Homo sapiens: one gene and its partners. Changing the gene in region 6 together with the main gene of any one other region gives a genetic interaction. Each region holds a gene or a part of one and is shown on either strand. Other genes may lie near its edges.

The links.
Region 1: changes in ELOF1 (region 6) and DHX35 together harm fitness more than expected from each alone (negative genetic interaction), as found in Homo sapiens cells (one large-scale study listed by BioGRID).
Region 2: changes in ELOF1 (region 6) and RPRD2 together harm fitness more than expected from each alone (negative genetic interaction), as found in Homo sapiens cells (one large-scale study listed by BioGRID).
Region 3: changes in ELOF1 (region 6) and SUPT6H together harm fitness more than expected from each alone (negative genetic interaction), as found in Homo sapiens cells (one large-scale study listed by BioGRID).
Region 4: changes in ELOF1 (region 6) and INTS12 together harm fitness more than expected from each alone (negative genetic interaction), as found in Homo sapiens cells (one large-scale study listed by BioGRID).
Region 5: changes in ELOF1 (region 6) and AHCTF1 together harm fitness more than expected from each alone (negative genetic interaction), as found in Homo sapiens cells (one large-scale study listed by BioGRID).
Region 7: changes in ELOF1 (region 6) and PAX6 together harm fitness more than expected from each alone (negative genetic interaction), as found in Homo sapiens cells (one large-scale study listed by BioGRID).

What each region holds. Positions count from the first base shown.
Region 1 is NC_000020.11:39,024,844-39,028,343, reverse strand, and holds part of DHX35 (probable ATP-dependent RNA helicase DHX35), read right to left. Parts: intron 3,115-3,500; coding exon 2,985-3,114; intron 1-2,984. UniProt on the Homo sapiens protein: May be involved in pre-mRNA splicing.
Region 2 is NC_000001.11:150,363,009-150,366,946, forward strand, and holds the start of RPRD2 (regulation of nuclear pre-mRNA domain-containing protein 2), read left to right. Parts: upstream 1-1,138; 5' UTR 1,139-1,706; coding exon 1,707-1,911; intron 1,912-3,938.
Region 3 is NC_000017.11:28,660,925-28,665,004, reverse strand, and holds the start of SUPT6H (transcription elongation factor SPT6), read right to left. Parts: upstream 2,801-4,080; 5' UTR 2,663-2,800; intron 2,389-2,662; exon of another isoform or gene 2,320-2,388; intron 1-2,319. Other genes in the region: SDF2 (stromal cell-derived factor 2), read left to right, coding at 3,129-3,279.
Region 4 is NC_000004.12:105,698,690-105,702,189, forward strand, and holds part of INTS12 (integrator complex subunit 12), read right to left. Parts: intron 1,583-3,500; exon of another isoform or gene 1,326-1,582; 5' UTR 1,317-1,325; coding exon 1,161-1,316; intron 1-1,160. UniProt on the Homo sapiens protein: Component of the integrator complex, a multiprotein complex that terminates RNA polymerase II (Pol II) transcription in the promoter-proximal region of genes.
Region 5 is NC_000001.11:246,841,774-246,844,948, forward strand, and holds part of AHCTF1 (protein ELYS), read right to left. Parts: intron 2,156-3,175; coding exon 2,022-2,155; intron 1,004-2,021; coding exon 921-1,003; intron 1-920. UniProt on the Homo sapiens protein: Required for the assembly of a functional nuclear pore complex (NPC) on the surface of chromosomes as nuclei form at the end of mitosis. May initiate NPC assembly by binding to chromatin and recruiting the Nup107-160 subcomplex of the NPC.
Region 6 is NC_000019.10:11,556,431-11,560,379, reverse strand, and holds the start of ELOF1 (transcription elongation factor 1 homolog), read left to right. Parts: upstream 1-1,149; 5' UTR 1,150-1,189; intron 1,190-3,949. UniProt on the Homo sapiens protein: Factor involved in transcription-coupled nucleotide excision repair (TC-NER), a mechanism that rapidly removes RNA polymerase II-blocking lesions from the transcribed strand of active genes.
Region 7 is NC_000011.10:31,788,526-31,791,424, forward strand, and holds the end of PAX6 (paired box protein Pax-6), read right to left. Parts: intron 2,336-2,899; coding exon 2,185-2,335; intron 1,800-2,184; exon of another isoform or gene 1,495-1,799; coding exon 1,409-1,494; coding exon of another isoform or gene 1,105-1,408; 3' UTR 501-1,104; downstream 1-500. UniProt on the Homo sapiens protein: Transcription factor with important functions in the development of the eye, nose, central nervous system and pancreas. Required for the differentiation of pancreatic islet alpha cells.

The DNA of each region.
Region 1 (3,500 bases), on a different chromosome or scaffold from region 6:
TCCACTCCCAGCACCACCCCAGGCTGCTTCAAGACACCTGGAAACCCTCTCCTGAAATGGCTCCAGCCCTACCCTTCCCAATGCTGGATGCCTGCCCCAGCACCATCTAAGGAGGTCCCACTCCCCACAACTGCTGCTGACAACAATGCTGGTCTGCTCCTTGAACCTGGGACCCCTCCAACCTCCCCTAAGCCACAGATGACTGGACCATGGCTGGGCACCAGAACCTAAGAGTGCTGCTCTGCAGGCTGGTCAGTGACCTCAGAACTCCTTTGTAAAAGAGTGTCATATGGCAACAATGTTCTTTCTATAAAACACAAACTGGAGATAGTATACAACGTTACTTCTGTGGTTATGAGCTAGTGTTTGAAAATTGAAGTAATTCTTCAAATTTTTCAAATGTTCCATTTTAACTGGTGTTTCTATTGCTACAGCTAACATCTTCCATGAATAAAGCTTCCCCACTATTAGATGATGTCCATAGGATACATTCCAAATTGTTGTGCAAAAGGCTAATGTTATTTTTATGGTTAATGACATATCACATCTCATCAATTTTAAGACTCGCTCTTTTTCTAACTTTAATTCACTGAAATTAGGACAGCATTTTACAATGATAACTGGCAGCATTTTTTTTCTTTGGTGACACATAAAATAACGATGTTTCTTACACATGATGGTATCTTAGATCCAATGGAATAAAGCATGTTGGTAAGTAAGTTCCATAAAGGTGGTACTATTTCCAAAGCCATCAACAATATATAAAAATGGCAGTTTCACTGCATTCTTACTAGCAATGTTTTGGCAAAAAGTGTTACCTTCTGTTACCTTCTTTTATATTACATTTATTTGATTACTATCGGCATATTTCTTCTTTTGTGAATTTTTTGTTCTAATCCTTAGCCCATTTATCAACCTGAAAACTGTTTTTTCCTAAATATATTAAATAAAATCATTCTATAATAAAGTTTTTAATCTTTATCATTTATCTCATGACTGCTGAAAGTATCTTTCACTAATTGCTTTCTATTTTTTAACCCTTAGATGTTTTAAATTTGCATGTAATTTATTTAGTCTCCATGATTTTCTGTATTTTTCCTAAGCACTGAGCTGATAAAATCTCAAATCTACATGTCTAAATATGATCTAATCCGATATCCAGTCTCTTCTCTCCTATTGTCCATAAGAAATTTCCATGTAAAATATGCACTCTAAACAGGGGTGATATCACTTCCAAAGGGGTGGAAACTGGTTCTTGGAGGCAGGGGGAGGGGAGCATCTTAGACACTACAATGGCCGGTAGCCCTCCAAAGCTCAATCCTACCCTACAAAATCTTATTCCTTAGTATTTAATTTCTCAGGCTGGGTAGAATTTAAATTTAACTTTTCTCCTGGGCAGGGGTCTGATAATGAAACACAGGTGAAGAACACCAATTGCTGAAGTAAGGCTGTCATCTACCTGCTGGGTGACAGGCGTTTGACGAGCTGCTCTCCAACTAGGTGCTCCTTGTAAGCATCCTGTTTCTATCAATGACTCCAACATGGCTCAATGGCCCAGGTTTCAACTCTTCCCTCTCTCGTGAGTGTATTCACCCATCAAATATTCTCTGAGCGTCTCATATACTCCTCACTCCAAGCACTTGTCTCCAGTCCTCCTTCCCTAGAGTGCTCTTTGCCACCATTTTCTAATTCAACCAGACCCCAAAGCTTGACCGGACTCCCACCACACCTCAAGGAAGCTGAAAGACTTCCCAAGCTAGCCCTCTCTGGATTCCTTCTTCCCGGCATTCCTTCCACATCTGCCAGCACGTCTTCTATGATTACTAAAGTATCTACTACTTTAACTTCGAAGAGGACTGATAATCTTAGTACTTTGTCTATCCATATGAATCTCTCCCTTCATTACACTGTTCCCTTAGAGTAAAAGCCAAGACTCCGTCATTGTTTAATCACTTGCTCTTAGTATAAAGACAAAAGAAGACTTAAATGGAACCGCCTGGGCTCAGGTTCTGACTCCATCATACCCTCACTGTGTAACTTCAGCAAGTTACATTTTACCTCTTAGCCACGCTTTTCTCACCTATAAGATGGGGAAAAGAGCACACGTTTCACAGCGTTGTTGTGAGCATTAAATTAATAAACACATGGAACACTCAGTGCACTGTCTAGCCACTTATAAGCACTCAGGAAATGTTACCAAGTACTAATGGTGCTGAGGATGTGGCTGAGTACCTGGCACACTAGGCTTTCAGGCTGACTGCTGAGGCGGGTGTGTCACTTCCTTAAAAGCGTAGACTTCTGAGCCACATACAGATCTGGCTCTCCTCCTTACCAGTTGCGTGGTCCTGAATTTAATCTACCTTCTCCCTAGGATCTTACGACTAATTGTAAAATGAGGATAACATTACCGACACCTCACAGAGTGCGAGATTGAGCAAGAGAATATTTGGAGAACCCCTGCCACAGCGTAACCTACTGTGTCCCTGATTAATAGTAGTCACTGTCACTGCTAGAGGCCAGAGACTACGTCTTACATAGTACTTTTCTGTCTTACCTTTAGTGGCTGCCTAGGCTAAATATCCAGCACTTGCTTTAATAATACTTGTCTTTGAATATAAAATTTAATTTTTATGTAATAGCTACTAATATCACTGATCAAAAAGTAATTTTTCTTGCAAAGCCTACATGGGAAAATCAATGACATGATGTGCACTGATGTGACTGTTAGTGATTCTTAAGTATTGTCATGGGCTATGAAATTCCTTTAGTAAGAATGCCCATCAGAAAGAAAAATAGACCTCCTTGGAAAAAATACGCAACTTGACCTTCAGCTTTTCACAGATGCAGGCAACTCAAAATATAAAACCCAGTGTTGGTACAGAGCACGCCACACTGCCTCGCACCAGCCCAGCATGAGAACTTTAGGAAGACAACTCAACAGAATGAAGCAAGGGAGGTCACCAGCTGGGACGGTTTCTTCTCACCTTCACTAGACTTCCTGGGCACTTGAAACTTGACAAGAAGCTTTTTCAATTGTTCTCTTACAGTCGCAGCTCTGACAAGACCCTTGTAATTCAGGAAATGTTCCTGACACCATTTAGAGTCCTTATTGTGCTACAGAACAACCCAGAGAGAGGGAGTTAGAAAACAGATATGTTCTCGACTAAGGCTATGTTGTAAAGATCATTCTTCTCTCTTCCCCCATGTGCTGTTCAACGGCATAAGATCTAAAGATGGGAACTGGCCCTTTTTTGCCCCATCTCTCAAAACAGATGTTAACAACCTTGCACACATCTGACTGCTCTGCAACCTCACTCTTTACACTAAAGGGCAAATGAGAACTTAATGACACGCAGAAACGGTTTCAATCTTACATACCTTCATGAGATGTGAACTATCAGAAAGAACCATTTCTCCACGTGGTTCTTTGTAAATCAACTTTTCTTCTTTGGCATGCTTGAATGTATCACTTTATTATACTAGAAGCCAACAATATGACA
Region 2 (3,938 bases), on a different chromosome or scaffold from region 6:
TCTTATACTGGCGCGTGCGTGCCGTGCACACGTACACACACGCGCGCACACACACACACCCCTTTCTCCCTTACCCTGCTTCACCTTTTTACAGAATTTAATACTGTCTGAAATGTACTTGTTGGTGGTGTCCTGCCACTAAATCCCGGAGGGAACGGATTTTTGTCTGTTTTGCTCCCCATGATCTAAAACAGTACTTGGCACAAGAGGTTCAACAACTCGTTGAATTAATGAATAGTGGACATGAACTTGACAAAACAGGTTCCCTGCCTCAAGAGGCATGGCCGCAGTGAGGAGACGTTAAAAGAATTAAAACTGTATATGTTTAGTGGGAACACAGGAGCCTTTAAATTAGCTCAGAGGATTTACATAGATACCTGCGATAAAATGGTTCGTATAAGGTTCATATAATAGTTACGTAAGACTCTTGAAAACTGTAATGTATTATGCAATTTTAAGATTGTATCATAGCTGGCGAAAATGAGGTCACATCTTGCCATTCTTTTTTCGCCTCGAAAAATTTTATGAGGAAAATTTCCTTTCACTTCCTCATTTATTTCCTTTTCCTGTAACCTAAATGGTCAAGCGGCTGTGAATGTTATCTTCTATGGGCAGCAATAAATACGGTTTGGTGTCGGAGTCTGCGTAGTGAATGGCTCACTGGATCTGGCGCATGCGCATCTTTTGTGGTGCCGCAAGATGGCTGCCAGCCATTTTGTCGCGCGTTGCTCCTCCGAGGAGTTGGGGGCGATGGCTGCAGCCCCCTGAAGACTAACAGTGGTCTCAGTGGTGGGAATTTTCTGTCTCTGTTGTGTGAGCTGAACACACCCAAGAGAGCGGCCAAAAGCAGCAAAGGGCGGGGCAGGGGAACCCCCCCACCCGGCTAACCTTAGTTATACCAGCTCCCTCACCCATCCCTCCCAGTTTTTCCTTCCATCCCGTTACACGCTTATCTTCTGCGCAGGCGCAAAAATAATCGTAGCGCCTCCTGGGCCCTGGGGGCTTCAGAGCTCCTGCGCGCGCTTGTGGTTCTCCACTCCTGATTGGTCAGGTTGCCCCGCCATCACGCCTCCCTCTGCTTTCAAGGTTGAGAAGGAAGCAGGGGTAGGGGGGTGGGGCCAAGTGGCGCGTGCGCGATACTGTTGCTGCCCCTTTGCTGCTATTGCGTTGCAAAAAAAATCCTGACTAGGTAGCCTTGGACCTTTTCTGTGCTAGCGAGTCTAAAGGAAAGAAAGATTTCTGCAACTGAAGGGGCAGTCGGGTAGTATTACATTTAAGATATTAACGCCCGACCTGGCTCACAGGAGTGTGGGAACAGGGGCGGGGAAGGGCCTTAGCACTGAGAGCCGAAAAGTATAAAACGATTAGTTTCGGCGTCAGGCGTTTTGAAAGGCTTTGCAGGTCCTGTTTTCTGCGTAATTTTTCCGTGATTACTGACTGGTTTAAACACGACCCCTTGAACAATATTGATAAAACCTCCGAGACCCGCAGCCCCTCCTTGCAGCGTGTAGGAGCTGCCAGCGTGCCCAGCAGCTGGTGTTCCCGTCCGTACCTCCAGAAGAGCCCAGCGCGTGCACCATCCCCACCCCCTAGCTTCCCTCCCCACCTACGGCTTTCACGCACTCGCAGTGATTGTTTTGCCCGCTCCCGCCGCCGCCGCCGCCGCCGCCGCCAGAGGAGCAGCAGCGCTTGTGCAAACCGGGAAGATGGCGGCCGGCGGCGGCGGAGGCAGCAGTAAGGCCTCCTCCTCGTCGGCCTCTTCGGCAGGGGCTCTGGAGTCCTCGTTGGATCGAAAATTCCAGTCGGTAACCAACACCATGGAGTCCATTCAAGGCTTGTCGTCTTGGTGTATAGAGAACAAAAAACACCACAGTACTATCGTCTATCATTGGATGAAGTGGCTCCGGAGATGTGAGTGTTGGGGGTGACTAGGGAAGGGAAGACTGGGGAAATGGAAGGAAGTGTGGCCTGAAACGCTTGGGGTTTTCCCACGGAGCCGCAGCATTTGGTTGGGGTTGTTCACATTAAAGGTTTGACCCCAGTGGTCCCAAACCCAGACTCCATTCCTAGCCAGGATTGTCCTGAATTGCAGGAGACTCATTTCTTGGGTTTTTTAGCCATTGAATTGTTGTGACCTTGGGCCGTTGGGCCCAGATCCATGGAGATTTACGTATATTGTTTTTAATATTTCAGAGCCTTGTAAGGTGTATTGATTTTTCCGAACCTTCGCGGAAATTGTAGCGTCTGTTTATTTCTTACAGGCCTTGACGTGTTAATGATTTCTGGCTTTCCTGATGGTAGGCGAGCTGTGGTTTTAAGCAGTAGTAAATCCAGTGATGTTTAATGAGGAGTGCCTTGTCTGGATGAATGTATCTAAAACTTGTGATGTGTAGTAAGGAGAGCCTTACCTGGATGAATGTTAAGAAGCAGCATGAGCTCTACATAGATCTGAGGCACCACCGGGTTTTCCCTGTACCTGTGTTTGCTGCAATAAAATACAGGTTTCTTGGATACTGACCAGAAACAACTGCGATACAGTAGTCAGTATCATCGTTAATACCTTCAAATATAAAGCGTGTCCAGTTCCTCTTTTTTTTTGAGACGGAGTTTTGCTCTTGTCGCCCAGGCTGGAGTGCAGTGGCGCGATCTCGGCTCACTGCAACCTCCACCTCCCGGGTTCAAGCGATTCTCCTGTCTCAGCCTCGCGAGTAGTCGGGATTACAGGCGCCCGCCACCATGTCCGGCTAATTATTTGTATTTTTAGTAGAGACGGGGTTTCATCATTGTGGCCTGGCTGGTCTCGAACTCCCGACCTCAGGTGATCCACCTGCCTCGGCCTCCCAAAGTGCAGGGATTACAGACGTGAGCCCCCCGTGCCCGGCCCCGTTACTTTTTAATTACCTGAAATACCTTTTTACACAATTGAGTTGATCTCATGGGTAATGTGCACAGGAAATGTGCTTTTTGAATATGTAGTACCTTTTTCTCCAGTTATGTTTTTTTTGTCTTTATCCTGGAGATTTTTCCATTTTGCTGCTTTACTGCAGAAACGAGCTCTGTTAAAGCATGGATTGTTTGCAGAACGTTTCAAATCTTATAGGAGGAAGTGTGGAGAAGTTACTGTTTCCTGCTGAGAAGAGAGGGTTAACTCATACTCCATATACATCTATTAGAATTTTTCTTTGCTTCCTGCCTGCGGCATTTCACCAGTGAGACCCATCATCCAGTTATTCTGCCTTATTCCACTTCTGCCATTGCTCCTGTAGTGTTTTGATTTGTTTACCTTTTAGAGAACAGATAGATAAAACTTGCAAAATTATAGGCCCCATGCTTCGAACTATTTGTGTTTAAAGTTTTGGGAGGGATGTTTTGTGGTTCTTTGAATAATAATGCAGAGAAATTAGTAGATACCGGACAGAATTACCTGTGTTTACCAATAACCGATCAAAGAGTTATTTTCTTGCCCAGAGGTAAAATTATAACGTGCAAAAACATCAAATATGATAACAGTCATCATTGAAGACTCACATGTTAAGTATCTGCTATGTGCCCAGTCATCTCATTGTACCTTAAAATCGTCTGAGAAGTAGATTTTTTAATCACTGATTTACAAACGAGGAAACTAAGACTCGGAAATTAAGTTGCTTAAGGTTACTCAGTAAAATGGTGGGGTTAGGGTTTGACTTCATCATTAACTTTGTAAAATAATGTTTAACGTTCTTGGTATACCAGTGATATATTGCAAACAGTTCTAATGTGAGTGAGAGAACCTCTTCTCCACCCTATTTTAAAACATTTTTACTGACCTATGCAAGCATTTTACATTTCCTCACCTTGGGCTCTGGGGCTTTAACTGTATGGTTACATCATTTGCAAGAATAAGTTGGTCCCTGTCCCGTCTCTGCTGTGTGGGATCACAAGCGACAATTACAGTTTTT
Region 3 (4,080 bases), on a different chromosome or scaffold from region 6:
TACTGTTGTGGTAGCCCAGGCAAAAGATGGTGGTGGCTTGGAATAAGGTGGTAAAAGTGAAGATGGAGAATAGAAGACAGATTACAAAAACATTCTGCAAGTGGAAGTGACAAGACTTACTGAAAGACTGGGGAAGAGGAGTAGTAAAGGAGAAGAACAAAGATGATTCTCAGAGGTCTATCTTTGGTAACCCTGCGGATAGGAGCACCACTCAGTGAAACGGGAGGATAAGGTTTGCAATGATGAGAAAACCAAAACTTTCTTTTGGTTATGTTAGCTTTGGGTGCCTAAGAAATATCCAAATGGAGATAATTAAACAGGCATTTTTGACGCGTGATTCTGCAACATAGAGGAGAGGGCTGGACTAGAGATTTAAACTTTGGAGTTGCCAACTTTCAGGTGGTAATTAAAGCCATGGGGCTGGGTTACCTAAAGGGAAGCATGTAGAAGGCTCGGGATTCCTGTGAGAATTCCAACATATGTAGATATACATATATTTTGAGACGGAGTTTTGTTCTGTTGCCCATGCTGGAGTGCAGTGGCATGATCTCTGCTCACTGCACCTCTGCCTCCCTGGTTCAAGTGATTCTCCTGCCTCAGCCTCCCAAGTAGCTGGGATTACAGGCGTGTCGCCACGCCCGGCTAGTTTTTGTATTTTTAGTAGAGATGGGGTTTCACCATGCTGGCCAGGCTGGTTGTGAACTCCTGACCTCAAGTGATCTGCCCACCTCGACCTCCCAAAGTGCTGGGATTATAGGCATGAGCCACTGCGACCAGCCCCAGCATTTAGACATTAGATAGAGAGCAAAAGTTGCTAGCAAATGAGACTCAGAAGGAACAGCCGGAGAAATGGAGAAAATCCAAGAGTGAAATGTCAATAAAGCCAAGATGAAAGTTTGGAGGCAGGAGTAACTATGTTGAATATTGCAGAGACAGAGGAATATGAGAACAAAGTATCCATTGGATTTGGCAACATAGAAGTCACTGGTGACCTTGATAAGAGCAACTTCAATGGAGTGGGCAAAGTAGATGTGGTGGCACTTGATTACTAGAAGCTGCCTCAGGAGGACTGCTTGAGCTCAGGAGTTCCAGGTGGCAGTGAGCTATGATGGGGCCACTGCACTCCAACCTGGGCAACAGAGCAAGACCCTGTCTCCACAAAAAAAAAAAAAAAAATGGAGTGGGCAGAAGAGAAGCCAGATTGGTATAAAATGAAGAGTGAATGAAAGTTGAGAAAGCTGAGTTGGTACAGGTAGAAATCTATGAATGGAAATTTAAAAAATTGGCATGGTAATTGGAGAGGGATGTGAAGGATACCAGAACATAATTTGTATGCTGATGGGAACAGTTTCAGGGAGAGACAGGATTTGGTGACTGATTTTATTGGGAAATAGTGGACAGGAAGGAAGACAAGGATTACAGGCAGGACTGATGGTAGTGCCATTTATTAAGGTCAAGAATATAGAATCAGGGCAAACGTATTTGCCTACAAAGATCATGTTTCCACCACACTAGGTAGGCTTTCAGAGGAAGAACTGTAAAATTTGACTAAGCCTCTCCAGACGGTACCACTTTCTGATGTAATTAATCTCCTGATGAAGTTAAAACCTCCTAGAGTTGCAAGGCTATGCTAATCCAATCTAGCAGCCACACAAGCCAAGTGAATAAAAATGTACTTGTACTGGTGAAAGGGACATTACTCGTAAAAAAGGGCTCTAAATTCACAGCTGATGGAAGAGCAGTTATGTTTCTGTAATCAAAACACTGAAGACTTACAAACTGGTAACTTCCAGATAAACAGTGGAACCAGACATTTTTCCGAAGAAATTAATCAAATTCAATATTGTTTACACTCCCTAATGCTCATTAATGATGTAGCTTCATACACCCTTGTTACTTTTGATATTACAGTGAATTTCCACGGAAGTATTTTCAGAGATCTTAGCCCTCTGAAATAAGTATCAGTTCTTGCAACAACCCAGGAAAATTAACTTCTCCAGCTGGTTCAAAGGAGTGCCTGAGGAGAAAGGTAGAAACTAGAAGATGGAGTTTTGACTTAATAACTAATTTTGATGTTCATGATAGGCCTCTGGCAAACGTTTGAGGAAATGAATCTATAGAGAATGGACGGGCTTTAGGACTTCTACAAGACCTTCGATCTTTAGAAAGGGATGAAGGATGCAACCATCTACAAAAAGTTCTATTTGTATTATTCAGCAATATGTAAAGAGCTGGAATTTGGCATCGCCCTCTAGCCTGATGGCCGAGCTGCTGAAAGCTCCACAGGATTCATATCCCCAGAACAAACAACTCGATCACCTGATCCTGGCTCAGAAGCCCCAGGTCCCTTCCATCCCCAATCCTTTTGCGTGGCCCAGTTTTAAAAACCTGCGGAGAGAAGGACGGGATGCCAGGAAGCCTGTTGATTCAACGTGCCACCCGATTCACGGGTTCCGGGTGTCACTGGGCTGGGAAAAGCTTTCGGACTCTGAGCAACTACAGCGCTTTCCTCCCCCTTCCCCCCATAGAGCAGGGAAGGCCAGGCTCCCCCTTCTTCCCGCATACGGCTCCCCACTGCCTCTTCCCTTACGTGACCAGGCCCTAGGAGCCCGGTTCCCCACCTGACTCCTGCGAGAAACACGCTCTCCAGTCGGAACTTTACCTGTCTGAAGCCCGCCGCTCCTCCAGTGCGCTAAGCCCCCACCGAGGAAAATGGAGTCGTCGAACCGAGACTGGGAAAAGATAGTACGGACCCACCGCACGGCCCCTCCGCCGCCACCGCCGCCGCTGCTGCGTCAACGTGCTACGTCATTTCCGGCTCCCTGTCACCGGGAGTGGGCGGGCCATTTCTTGTTCTCTCTCCCGCTCTCGGAAGCTTTCGTCTCGTGGGTGCGAAAGGTAACCGAAGCGGCTCAGGAAGGCAGCTGTCACTGAGCCCCTGGAACAGAGCGAGAGTATCGTAAGTAACCAGGCTCAGCCGGTTTCTCAGGCCGCTCTAGTCAAATAAACCATAAAGATCAGACTCGGGCTTCTTCACTTCCTTCTCTCCGTGGTTTCGCCATTAGCTTCCGGTTCCGGGGAGGGGCCGAGTTTTCTTCGAAGATTTGGGGCTCCGCGATACAGTTAGGATGGCTGTAGTACCTCTGCTGTTGTTGGGGGGTTTGTGGAGCGCTGTGGGAGCGTCCAGCCTGGGTGTCGTTACTTGCGGCTCCGTGGTGAAGCTACTCAATACGCGCCACAACGTCCGACTGCACTCACACGACGTGCGCTATGGGTCAGGTAATGCTGGGGACCGGGCTCGGGTGGGCTAGGGAGGACTCGGAGGCTCTGGAGGGGCGGGGCCTATAGAATATCTGACAGTGTGGTCTGGGAAAGTTAGGGGTTCCCTGGGAAGGTTCCTCAGGTCTAGAGAGTCGGAGAACTGAATTGTTCTAAGGCATCTTAATCGCAACACCACCTAATATTTGGTGAGCTACAGGCCAGGCACGTTACCTATGTCCTTTTTCCGATTATTAACATTGTTGTAAGGTGGACAGTATTGTTATCCTCATTTCACAGATGAGGAAACAGACGCAGAGAAATTAAATCGTTTATTCAAAGCCTTGCAGTTAGCAAATGACAAAGTCGGGGTTCTATCCAAATCTATCCAGGTTCAAAGCCTGCTTTAGAGACAAGAAAATTACAGTAAGTGCTGTGTCTGAAATTTTAAAGTTACAGTAAGTACTGTCTGTGAAACTTTAAACTCCAAGAGCTCACTCGTTGACTACAACCCTTTGTCTTCCAGCTCTTCTGCATCTTACACTTGCTCCTCAGTTTCCATCTTTGGCCCCCTTCTACCCAAACCTTAACCTCCTTCTTGTAAGAAACTTGGAGCAGTGACAGGAATTGCAGAGAAAACTGCTTTTTTTTTTTTTTTTTTTTAGCGTTTGAAATTAAAATGTTTAGTAATAAATTATTTGTGGATTCATTCAGCATAGGTCTTAATGAGTTCCTACTACATGGCTAGAATTGTACTACATACAGGAGATTCGGTGGTGATAATCAGTCAAGAAAATTACAATATAATAAAAACAGACTAAA
Region 4 (3,500 bases), on a different chromosome or scaffold from region 6:
ATGGATAGAAGAAATGAAGTCACAATGGTTCTGCTATTCAAAATACAATAAAAAGGCTTCGGAGTACTAGACCTAGTATTGAAAGAAGGCTGGGGACAAAATGCCAGTGTTTACTTGGGCTCTGAGCCTGGGACTAGATCCTCTCTTGAGCTTCAGATTCTGGTTAGACTTGAGCTAGTCATGTTCTATTTTCTCCTTCTCAGTTTGGGATCTAAGTCCACAGACCTGAGTGATTTGGAGTTTGAGGGTCAGAGCTTAGAAGGATTTGATAGAATGTCTTAGTAGGTATTAGGGAATATAATAAGAGTTGTCATTCAGTGACAGCCTATTATGTACCAGGCAGGTACTACACTAGGTAACTCATTTACTGGATCTCCTTCAATTTTTACAACTCTGCAAAGTAGTTCTTATTATCCCCATTTTACCAATAAACAGACTAAGTGAAATGAAGTTTCTATGTACCTCAGTTTCCTTATGTAAAATGAAGAAAACAGTTATCTATCTTAAAGGATCATTATCATAATTAAAATTAATTATTCACATAAACTACTCAGAAAAGTGCCTGGGACATCAAGATACGTTGTCTATTATCATCACACAATTATAAGATTTAAGTGGGATTTAAAACAGGTGTGTTTGGTATCAAAACATATATTCTTTTCACATAAAGCTGCCATTGGCTGCTTTGTTATTATCAAGACAGGAGCTACACAGTTCTCAGAGTTCATCCATACCTCCTTTTCTCTTAAATTATCCTACCCATATTCAATTTATTTTGTTGAAAGATCTGTCCTTTTACTTGATTTTTTTTAATCCTTAAAATATTAGGCAATAATTAGAAGTAAGTTGTGGTTACATTCAGCAGCTTAAAAAAAATTCTGATCACAAAGAATCGGAAATTAAAGTAAGTCGTAAACAAGTGAATTCATATACACATAAAGTAGTAGAACAGAATATCCTGCACCCCCAGCTGATTTTTCTATGTGGTGTAACAGTTCTCTGAAAACTTGAAGGGAAAAAAGAAAATAAAGAATATAATTTCTTCATGCTACAAGGAAAGATTATTTCGGCAGAGATTGTTTTGAGATGGTCTATATGTTATCAATGTAGTACTACAGGCCTTACAAAACTCTCTCCAAGCTTTTTATTCATTCAAGTACCTTTTGAGATGGACGGTAACTGGAATCAATGCCCCGAGCCAAAGATTCATCAAGCAGTGCTTTTAGCTTTTCAGCAGAATCTTTACTCTTTGAATGCAAGAAACCTAGTGCTTTCAAAAAAATGGGATCAAGTTCCAAGTTCACAGTAGCAGCCATTGCAAACGCCTGAAGGAAAAAAAGAGAAAGTAATCTAGAAGACAATGCACAATTATCTATGTTAAAGTTTTACTTTTCTGTTTTTTAATTTGTAATAGATAATACTGTACACATGATATAAAATTTAAAATCACCAAAAAGTTATTACAAATAAAAGTAAATTTCCTTCTTATTCCTGACAGGCATTATCTAGTTCCTTCCCCCTGAAACAACTAGCAGTATCAGTTTTCTGTGTATCCATATCGATGGTAACGTTTTAAATCCAGGTAGGCCTCTCCCTGCCACAGAACTCCTTCCTAACTGTGTTTTAAAAGATACACTTCGCAGTTTCAGTACATAGAACTTGATGGGTTTACGTCAAGTTTACTCTGTATCAAAATTTCTTCTCTCAAACCTTATTTCCATAACACAAGGGAAGACTTAGTGTGCAGGTGTTTGTGTGTGTAAGGGCTATCGTAAGAGGGCAATGGTGAAAAGGTATATTAAGTGATTAGCTATCATGGTCACTGCTGCCACTTTTACCTCAACTCTTTTTTTTTTTTTTTCTAAACTCACCTCTTCAGTTCTCTGCCCCAACCCTAAATGTCTCAGAAAACATATTAATGATAACCTTATTTGATCACATTTAGATTGTGGTATCTCATGCATTAACCTATTTTTAAAAGTAAGGTCTCTGAGGGATAATATCATATCTACTTAAAACACACACACACACACACACACACACACACACACACACAGAGCCTATGATGCTTTGTGTCCTAAAGAGCTTAAAAAATAGCCAAGATGGATAAAGATATACATCAAAGGCTTATGAAATTCCACAATACTAAAAAGTTTTGTTTTTAGTTAATACCAATGCTATCATGTGGTTCTGCTTCTGGTTGTCACTTTTTCAAAGACCTCTCCAGGCAAGAAATTATCAAAATAAAAATGTATTCTTTGTGTTCAATCCTTTGATCAATATACTATGGCTTGAAATCTTCTATCCTTGAGGTTAATATTGTATTAATGCAGCACACTTGCATTGCTATAGTTAGGGAACTGTCAGCAATTCCACAGTTATCTCCCATTTTCAGGGGTTTATAACACCATTAAAACTTGCTGTAGGTTGAATCCTAGCATATGAAAGCACATCTGAAAATGGATTTTGTTGTCCCCTCCCCTCCAGCTTCACTCCTCATCCTTCTCCACATCTGACAAGAAACACACATACACATCCCTAGGCTTTTTTTTTTTTTTTTTTAAGTTCCCAGGAAGGTATTAGTTATCTACCTGATAACTACAAAATTACTGTCGAATTCTGTACTGTACTAAAATATCATCTGAATCACCCATGGAAAGGAATCCAAAGGCCAGTACTATAATGAAAAAGTAACCTTATCTCAAACTGTTGTATTTCTAAGAATTTAACAAAATTGAAAAGCAGCCTCTGTCACTTCTTAAAATTATATTATTATATACATCACCTCTACATAATGATAGGTACAGAAAAATTATTTTAAAATTTACTCATGGGGCTGGTCACCATGTACGTTCTGAGGAAAAAATAGCTCCTTAATAAAATTTCCAAGATTAAAAGGGTAAACCTGCCATTCCCCCAGCATATACAAGGGTAACAGCCTAATCTCTTTTTTTTCTTTAAATTCCACTCCTGTGACAGTTTACTAATCTTTCTACTGATTTTATTTCATATAGGTAAAGGAAATAGCAGTTTACTTATCCAGATTGTTATAAAACAATTTATTTTATTGGGTGCTGACCAAAGGGTTGACACCTAAAAGAACCCTTGTAATATATTAGAAAAACCATTTCTTGAAATTTCTATGCTGAAAAATGAAAGCCAAGTATTTATTGCTATGTATTTCTACAATCACAGGTAAGAGGTTTACATTACAGATTAGGTGACAAGAGTCAGCACCTAGATTACAAGACTGCGGAAGTCATCAACACCAACATTCCAGTTGGAACCTTGGAGTCAGTTCTTTTTATGCAATCTTGCCATTATAAAACTTAACAGGCTTTGTACCCCTCCCCTAAATTACTAACATGGCCCTTTGACCCAGTGGTCCCCATGGTGGAATACAGAGAAAAAAATATTAACTTTTTAATTTATTTCTATTTCTTTTTTTTTTTTTTTTTTTTTTTGAGACAGAGTCTCGCTCTGTCGCCCAGGCTGGAGTG
Region 5 (3,175 bases), on a different chromosome or scaffold from region 6:
CCTTTTATTATTTTATTTTTATTTATCTATTTTTTTGAGACAGAGTCTCAGTCTGTCACCCAGGCTGGAGTGCAGTGGCGTGATCTTGGCTCACTGCAACCTCCGCCTCCTGGGTTCAAGTGATTCTGCCTCAGCCTCCAGAGTAGCTGGGACTACAGGCACCCACCACCACGCCCAGCTAATTTTTTTTTTTTTTTTTTTCAGTAGAGACAGGGTTTCACCATCTTGGCCAGGCTGGTCTTGAACTCCTGACTCGTGATCCACCCACCTCGGCCTCCCAAAGTGCTCGGATTACAGGCGTGAGCCACCACGCCCGACCTCCCATGTTCCTTTTAAAAGGACTGGGCTTTCATGCTATTAATATATAAAGAAATCCACCTTCAGCAGTGAAATCTAACAATGCCAGGGAGCCAGTGCTTGTAAATGCCCGATAATCTTTTCTGATGAGCTTAATTTCCTTTTCGTAAAATTAAGGGTCTTCTCAAATCTAATTTTGAGAAAAAAATGGATAAAAATTACAGAACAAGGCTGGGTGCAGTGGCTCACACCTGTCATCCAAGCACTATGGGAGGCCAAGGCAGGCGGATCACTTGAGACCAGGAGTTTGAGACCAGCCTGGCCAACATGATAAAATGCCGTCTCTACTAAAAATACAAAAATTAGCCAGGTGTGGTGGTGGGCACCTGTAGTCCCAGCTACTTGGGAGGCTGAGGCATGAGAATCACCTGAACCTGGGAGGCAGAGGTTGCAGTGAGCCGAAATCACACCACTGCACTCCAGCCTTGGTGACAGACCGAGACTCTGTCTCAAAAAAAATAAATAAAAATAAAATAAAATAATAAAAGGAGGATAGTAGGGTGGGGACAGAGCGAGACTGTCTCAATCAATCAATCAATCAAGAACAGAACAGAAAGTCATACTTGCTTGCTTGTTTTGTTTTTGACGTCCTGATTCGTTTCGCTTTTGGCTTTCCCAGAGTTTCTACTGATTGTGCATCATCTTTCTATGGGTTAAACATTTTAAAAGGTTAAGTATTAAACACGAATCCAATTTTAAAACTTCTATCCTGAGACAAGGAATACTAGAGCCAAACACTGATGAATTCAAACTCGCCAAATGCAAAATTGACTCCTTTTCTCATACCTTTTAGTAGAAACCTTAGTTATGCAGGCCTGTTCTTTATTCCTCATTCCTACAATTCAACTAATCTCCAAGTTATCATCAGTTTTATTTTTGAATGTTTCCACTGTCTACTGCCCTTCTGTACCCACTCCCTTTGTCCAGATCCAGGCTCTCACTTTCTAAGAAGTAGACAACCAGAGACTATTGTTTCCTACCCACATTTCATCTTTCATAGAGACTACCTGTAATACACACATGGCTATTCACAATGAACACTCCTCATCTGCCTGCCATTGCCATGCTCTGAGCCTTTGCGTCTGCCATTTACTCTGTTGGGAGGAATGCCTGTCTCCTCTAACCTCGGTCTATAAAGTATTTGAAGTAATTGTTTTCATCTCTTCAATGAAACTGTGTATCTCAGTTGAACTGTAGGTGCCTGACAGACAAGGAATTTGCCTGAATTATTCTTGTGTAATTTGCCCTTGCAGAGTAGCAGACTCATGGCAGATAATTCAATAAATGCTTATGAATTAACATTTATAAACTTAAGGGACTCGCACTCAATCCCTCAACTATTTCTTTAAAAAACACCCAGGTAATTCTGATGGACACTAGAATTTAAAAACCCTTCCACAAACAGGTAATTTAAACTGTAACTGCTGGTAAAATATGATCAGTAGCATACCACAGATGTGTCTTAAAGGTAGGAGGCCTCCAAAGGGGTGGATACGACCATTTTTGGCTTTTGGTATGCATGACTGTTATCTTTAAGACATTTATTTAAATAATAAACAAAATTTAAAATCATTAAAATTTAAATAAAATAATTTTATTAAAACATTTGTAAAAAAAAAAAGTATGTTTTAACAAACATACAAATAAAATCATGCATTTCTTACCAGTTCATCTTCAAGCTTGTTCTTATTGGATGTGTTTTTTTGTCTGCTCCTTAAAGCAGGAGGTGAGATGACAAACTGAGAAGATAAATCCGAAACTAATTCTTTCAGCTGTGCAGGAACCTCTATTTTTTTAGCTAAAAAAAGTTGAAAAAACTGTATCTGTATCTTTATATATGTGTGTATATATATAAACACAATAAAAACCTGGAACAAATTATGTGTTTTAGAAAGATGCAAACGTCCCCAAACCTGGAAACCATTAGTATTGCAACCTAAGTATCCATGTTGGCAGAGAAACGACAGAAAAATCCCAGCATCATTTGGGTAAGCCAAATGTGTAGGACGATTGAATGCTTCAAACTAAAAAGTGCTACAATATAAAGACAGGCCATGAAAGCAGGTACAGAACTGTTTAGTCTATTTCTTTTAATCCGTACTGCTCCTCAAGCATTCTGGGGAGGGAAAGCATTAATCCTATATGTAACCTGAGCTAGTCTGTGCCATAACTACTGCTATTGCAGAGACGTTATTTACAAAGTAGGTTTTTTATTTTCAAAAAAGAGAAAATCTTTCTAGCCACCTCATTTTGAACTACTTGTTCCAGCCAAAGGAACAGAAAAGTTCATCTCCACAAAAGGAGAAAGTGCCAGGTGCAGTGGCTCACAATTGTAATTCCAGCACTTTGGGAGGCTGAGGTAGGAGGACGGCTTAAGGCCAGGAGTTCAAGACTAGCCTGATCAACAAAGTGAGAGCCCTGTCTCTACAAAAAATTTTTAAAAGATTAGCCAATGTGGTGGTGCACGCCTGTGGTGTCAGCTACGTGGGAGGCTGAGGCAGGAGGATCACCTGAGCCTGGGAAGCTGAGGCTACAGTGAGCCATGATTGTGCCACTGCACTCCAGCCTGGGTAACAGAGTGAAAAGCTAACAGGAAGATATTCCATAGAAAAATAAAAATGGTTTAAACAACAATTGGTTTAAAATAAGGAATTAAAAGCATTTACCACACAGACTTTTTTTTTTTTTTTTAACTATAGGGCCCCCATATTAAAAGCAATTATCAATATAATTACAGACGAGCACAGTTCAGTTTAACCAGTCTGCCGGAGTAAATCCCAGCTTCTGGACTTACTGTGAGACCAGAATCAAGTAACTT
Region 6 (3,949 bases):
ACTTGAGGTCAGGAGTTCGAGACCAGCCTGACCAACATGGTGAAACCCCATCTCTACTAAAAATACAAAAATTAGCCAGGCATGGTAGTGCGCACCTGTAATCACAGCTACTTAAGAGGCTGAGGCAGGAGGATCGCTTGAACCCGGGAGGCTAAGGTTGCAGTGAGCCCATATGGCGTCACTGCACTCCAGCCTGGGCGACGGAGCGAAACCCTGTCTCAGAAAAAAACAAAACCAAAAATAAAAACCAATAAAAGTCCTTGGCCGGGCGCGGTGGCTCACGCCTGTAATCCCAGCACTTTGGGAGACCGAGGCGGGTGGATCGCGCCTGTAATCCCAGCACTTTGGGAGGCCGAGGCGGGTGGATCACGAGGTCAGGAGTTCAAGACCAGCCTGGCCAAGATGGTGAGACCCCATCCCTACTCAAAAAAAAAAAAAAAAAAAAAACTACAAAAATTAGCCGGGCGCGGTGACCGGCGCCTGTAATCCCAGCTACTCGGGAGGCTGAGGTAGGAGAATCACTTGAACCTGGGAGGCGGAGGTTGCAGTGGGCCGAAATCGAGCCACTGCACTCCAGCCTGGGCGACAAAGTGAGACTCCGTCTCAAAAAAATAAAATAAAATAAAACAAAAATAAAAAATAAAAATCCTTAACACGGCCCACGAGGCTCCATGGAATCTGGCCCCAGCCTGTCCACTCAACCTCATCTACTACAATCTGGGCACTCAAAATGTGGTCTGCGGATCAGCAGCATGGAAGTCACCTGGGAGCGAGTTAGAACAGCAGCCTCTCAGGCCTCCCTCTTCATCTGCTGGATCAGAACTTGAACTTTTTAGTTTGAGTAGAGCGTCTTCCATGCTTACAAGCTTCCCCTTCACCCTGATTCAGCCATAAGGTTATTTCATATTCCTCACTTGCCGCTCCTGGAAACTGACCAGAAGTACTGGCATCGCGCGTAGGTACAGGCAAATACGCACCGGCTCTTGCGCAGGCGCACTGCGTCTCCGTCGGAGCGCTGCTATTTGAGTACGCGTGCGCTCAGAGGAGCGGCGAAGGAGGCAGGGCCTATTTGCTGGGCTGTCCGGGATGGGGGTGGCCGGGACCTGAAAGTAGGAGAGGGGTTTCCGCTTCCGGCAGGAGTCGGAAGTCACTATCTCCCGGGTGAACGGAGCTTTCGCAGCTGGAGAAGGTGAGTGCTGGTGCGGCTCGTGCGAGTGGGCGTTGGGGGTGGGCAGGACTGGAAGTTCCTCTACTCCGTGCGTTTACGGGGTCCTGGAGGAGGCTCCTGGGACCTCGAGCTTGGGGGAAAGCCGGTCGGGGAGACTGACTCCCCCCGACCCCATCCTTCCAAGCGCGACTACCGGGACGCCTGGCTCCTCCCGGCGGCCGTCGGGAGGCGATGCCGAAGCTTTAGTGAGTCTGGAGGAACAGCCAACCCCCCACCTCTTGGGTACCAGCAGATTCGGGGGATGACTCCTCTGCCATCCCCTTTTGGCGCTCTTGGACTTAACGTTGTCACAGGACAGGCTGAGGCCTCTGCATTCCTTGTGCAAGCCAGACCCCATTCATGGGATGGGGAGACTGTAGTCCCTGGGCAAAATGAGCTTCTGGGGCTCATCCGTAGATTTTGTTTGGACTTTTTTTTTTTTTTTTGAGAGTGAGTCTTGCTGTGTCGCCGAGGCTGGAGTGCAGTGGCGCGATCATAGCTCATTGCAGCCTCGACCTCCTGGGCGCAAGCTTCCCACTTCAGCTTGCCGAGTAGCTGGGACTACAGACTCAAGGCTAATTTTTGTAATTTTGTAGAGATGAAGGGTCTCACTCTGTTTCCCAGGCTGGTCTGGAACTCCTGGCTTCAAGCGATCTTCCCACCTGGGCCTCCCAAAGTGATGAGATTACGGGCGTGACGTCCCAAAGTGATAGAGTTACAAGCAAACTGATTGAGTGATTTATTCAGTAATGGTTATTGCTGGGCACGGTGGCTCATGCTTGTAACGCCAGCACTTTGGGAGGCCGAGGCGGGAGTATCTCTTGAGCCCAGGAGTTCCAGACCAGGCTGGGCAACATGGTGGGTCCCTGTCTCTACAAAAAATACAAAAATTAGCTGGGCGTGGTGCCGCGGCTAATTTATATTTCAGAGGTAGAGGGGCAGGGGGAGGATCGCATAAGGAATGTGTGAGGGAAAAAGACATTGAGGATGAATCCAAGGTTTCTGATTTGATTATCCGGAAAGATGGAATTGCTGTTAGCTGAGATGAGGAAGACTGGAAGAGCAGGTTGCAATGTCAGGGGCTTGGTTTTGGACATGATATGTTTAATCTTAGGTGGAAGTTAGACATCAGGTGGAGGTGTGGCTGAGGCAGATAGATCAGAGTCTGCAGTTCAGACTCAAGGCTGGAGAAGCAGGTGGCCTCAGTGTAGAGTAGGCATGAAGCCCTAAGACTGGGTGAAATCTTCATGTGGTGAGTATAGCCAGAAAGGAGAGGATCCAACAATTAAACTCATGGGCTTTTTGCTCTGTTGCCCAGGCTGGAGTGCCTCGGCTCACTGCAACCTCCGCCTCCCAGGTTCAAGTGATTCTCCTGCCTCAGCCTCCCGAGTAGCTGGGATTACAGGCGTGCACCACCATGCCTGGCTAATTTTTGTATTTTTAGTAGAGATGGGGTTTCACCATGTTGGTCAGGCTGGTCTCGAACTCCTGACCTCGTGATCTGCCCACCTCGGCCTCCCAAAGTGCTGGGATTACAGGCGTGAACCACTGCACTCAGCCTTTTTTTTTTTTTTTTTTAGATGAAGTTTTGCTCTGTTGCCCAGGCTGGAGTGCGGTGGCACAATCTCAGCTCACTGAAACCTCCGACTCCCAGGTTCAAGCGATTCTCCTGCCTCAGCCTCTCTATTAGCTGGGATTACAGGCATGTGCCACCACGCCCAGCTAATTTTTGTATTTTTAGTAGAAATGGGGTTTCACCATGTTGGCCAGGCTGGTCTCCAACTCCTAACCTCAAGTGATCTGCCCACCTTGGCCTCCCAAAGTGCTGGGATTATAAACGTGAGCCACAGCGCCTGGCCCAAACTCACGTGCTCTCTTCATTGGAGCAAGTTGGCAGAGAGGCAGGAGCATAGGAGACTAGCAGGAGCCACCAGTGAGGCAGAGGACAGGGAGCACATGGCATCCTGAGAGCCACATGTGCTCTCAGGGGAGGAAGGACCTCTGGAATGGGAGGACTGCCATTGGGATTTGCAGTATGGAGCCACCAGTAACCTAAGTTTGGAGGCAAGGGGTGCAGAGAGATGGGTGGGAATGCAGATGGCTGTACACTAAAACAGCCTGCAGAGAAAAGGATCATAGCTGGAAGAGGATGAAGAGTTTTTTTTTCCCCCTTTTTAAATGAGGAGAGAGGTAATAACAAGTGTGTGAGAGTGATCCAGTGGAGCTGGAAAATTTGATGTTGCTCAAAGAAAAGGGGATGGGAGCCAGGGCAGAATGAACAAATTGTTTTTGCAGGAACTTACTTCCATAGTAAAGGAGGCATGCCGAAGCTGGGCATGGTGGTGCACACCTGTTGTCCCAGCTACTGAGCAGGCTGAGGCCAGAGGATTGAGGCTTTAGCAAGCTGTGATCATGCCACTGCACTCCAGCCTGGGCAACAGAGCAAGACCTCATCTCTTAGATAAATAAAGAGGGTGGGTGAATGGCTGAATGAGTTGGTCCTAGGAGCTGTCTTTGGATTGCTTCTATTTACTCAGTGAACTGGAAGCATCACAGTTAAGAGTTGGGGGTGTTGGCTGGGCGTGGTGGCTCACGCCTGTAATCCCAGCACTTTGGGAGGCCGAGACAGGCGGATCACGAGGTCAGGAGATCGAGACCATCCTGGCTAACACGGTGAAACCCCATCTCTACTAAAAATACAAAAAATTAGCCACGCGTGGTAGTGCATGCCTGTACTCCCAG
Region 7 (2,899 bases), on a different chromosome or scaffold from region 6:
ACTTTTGAATATACTTCAGTGAAATCATTGTTGAAATAGGCTGACAATGGAAATCTGCCCAGATTGAAAATGCCAGTCCTAATTCAAAAAACAATTCCTAGCTAATCGCTTGTTGCATTTTTAAATTATTTCTAGACTTTGAGCTTTAGAATTAAATGGCTAACTGGGAAATGTTACCATTTTGTATATATGTTGTGGGTATAAATGGGCACAGATCTACACCCTGCTGTAAGTGGAATTTTTTTCTAACACGTTTTTGATTTATGGTATCTATAAGGATTATTTTTTAAGGATCATCAGGATGTAAAACAGAGTGTGTGTGAAAGTAACCATTGGTTTAGAATGTTGATCTAACATGGAAATAAAATTTGTAACACCACACTATAAGGTTAAAAAGAAAACTGTATAATAAAGGAAATACAAAGGCTTTGGCATGGTTTTTTACAATCAACAATGGTTAATTTTGATATGTAGTTGTGAACAACTTCAAAACACTTAAGTTTAAAACTCTTGCAAGCACTTTTAATTGATTAGGAATGAACTCTAGATGCACAAAATGATTGGACCGTGAACAGTAATACAACTATATCTAAGAACAATTAACTTTTGCTGGCCAAAAAAGAAACGTATGATTGCATGAAAATGTGTATAAAACATCTATATTCTTGTCAAATATAAATGAAATTAACTTTATTATAGAAATCATTCTGAGGATTTCTAGGGAAGACAAATACTTACATTTTGACATAAAACAAATTGGATTATATCGAAGACACACTCTACCTTTTAGCTATCAACTTTTTTTCTTCCTTGAATTTATATCTTACCCTTTTTTGCACATAAACTTCATCTGTTAACAACCTTTGGAAAACCAACAGATATTTCTGACATAAATCTAGTGCATGTTGTTCCAGGTTTAATTATATGCAAAGGAATGATACAAACTTGGAACATCAGTCCATAAACTATGAACAGATGGGTAGAAGTATTCGATATATCTTGATAAAACTCTTAAATTCGTGGCAAAGCTTGTTGATCATGGTTTTCTTTTTAAAAAAAAAAAAAACAACTTCATGACCAACACAGATCAAACATCCATCCAGTCTACATTGTTCTTTTTTTCATTATAACATACAAATGCCCATTTACAAATAATACACCAAAATGAATAAAAGTTTGGATACCAAAATGAAGATTTGTTCCAACTGATATCGTGCCTTCTGTATACAAAGGTCCTTGTTTCAAGTCCATTCCTTCCCCAGTGGTACAATACAGGACACAATTGTAGAACTGAAGCGGCTCTAACAGCCATTTTTCTTTCTTTCCTGAAAGCTCAACTGTTGTGTCCCCATAGTCACTGACTGAATTAACACAATATTTCCTTTCCTTTTTTTTTTTTTTTTTTTTTTTACTGTAATCTTGGCCAGTATTGAGACATATCAGGTTCACTTCCGGGAACTTGAACTGGAACTGACACACCAGGGGAAATGAGTCCTAGAAGTGGATGAAAGAAATAGCCATGTAGATATTCCCTTTGAGAAACAGACATGGAATACAAATTTATAGGTTTACAAAAAAAAAAAAAAAAAAAAAAACTAATACTTTCTAACATTTTTTACTGTATTAAAATCACTTCAATTGTTACAAATAAAAGTAGCACCTTCAGAAACTAGACAATATATGTATATATACCTATTGGATCCCAAGTACCCCCCACCCCAATCCAAAGGAAAAGAAAAAAAAAATCCTCTGTTTGTTTGCATGTTTGGAACTTTTACAATAAAGCTGTCTCTGGAAAACCAATGTGTCACTTTTTATTTCCAGCAAAAGGTCTAGAGGAGCTATGAGGGCAAGAAGCATTTCAACAAGCACGCACCTACAGCTCAGTGGGCCCCCTACTGAGCTTCGTCTAATAATCTGTCCTCAGAAAACTTGCAGTCTCAGGCCTTGTCTTCATACACAACTTTTGTGACCAAATTCAGGAAAAACAATTTTAGTTTTTGTCTATATGGTGTAAAGTTACTAATTAGCTTAACTGAATTTCCCTTTTCAATCCCCATCCCCCAGGGACAAGGAAAGCAAGGAGTTAAACACGCCCTCCCATAAGACCAGGAGATTCTGTTTGGGTAAACTTCTAGTGAAGAGAGATCGCCTCTGTGCAGCCTGCAGAAAGCAGTGGCTCACCTGTTGAAGTGGTGCCCGAGGTGCCCATTGGCTGACTGTTCATGTGTGTCTGCATATGTGGGGGGGTGTAGGTATCATAACTCCGCCCATTCACCGAAGGGCTGGTGGGCAGCATGCAGGAGTATGAGGAGGTCTGGCTGGGGACTGGGGGCTGTGAGGAGAGAGGCAAACCTGTGGTTACTGAGGAACACATCACACAGCCACAGCCCCAGGCTCCCTCCTCCCGAGGAACTCTGCCAACAAGTCTGATCATTAAAGATGCCTTCACGTGAAGTACTGGAATTCCATATGATAAATCTAAGATTGGGCCTCGAGCTAGTCCTTCCACTGGCCACAGCTAGAAGAAAGCTGCCTATGTATCAAGCCTCTAAAGCACTTTAGGTTCTGACAACTGTCCAGCTAGATGGTTGCCACTATCCATAAATTAATAGGATTTTTGTCTCTAACCTCTGCTAGCATCTTTGAAGAACCTATAGCATGAGGACCTTCATCAAAACACATCCCCTCTCCCTGCAAATCTGGATTTATTTGGGAACCCTATGACCCCCAGAGCCCATATCTCAAGCTTTGGGACAGAGAGCAGTGGGAGGAGCTCTCAGTAAAGTATGGTTCAGGGACCTTGGGAACCTTTCACTGATGGGATTAAAGATTCTTTGAAGAAGCAGATCTGTAATGACCCCAAGTTAAAGTGATCAGAAGTGTTAGTAAATATAAC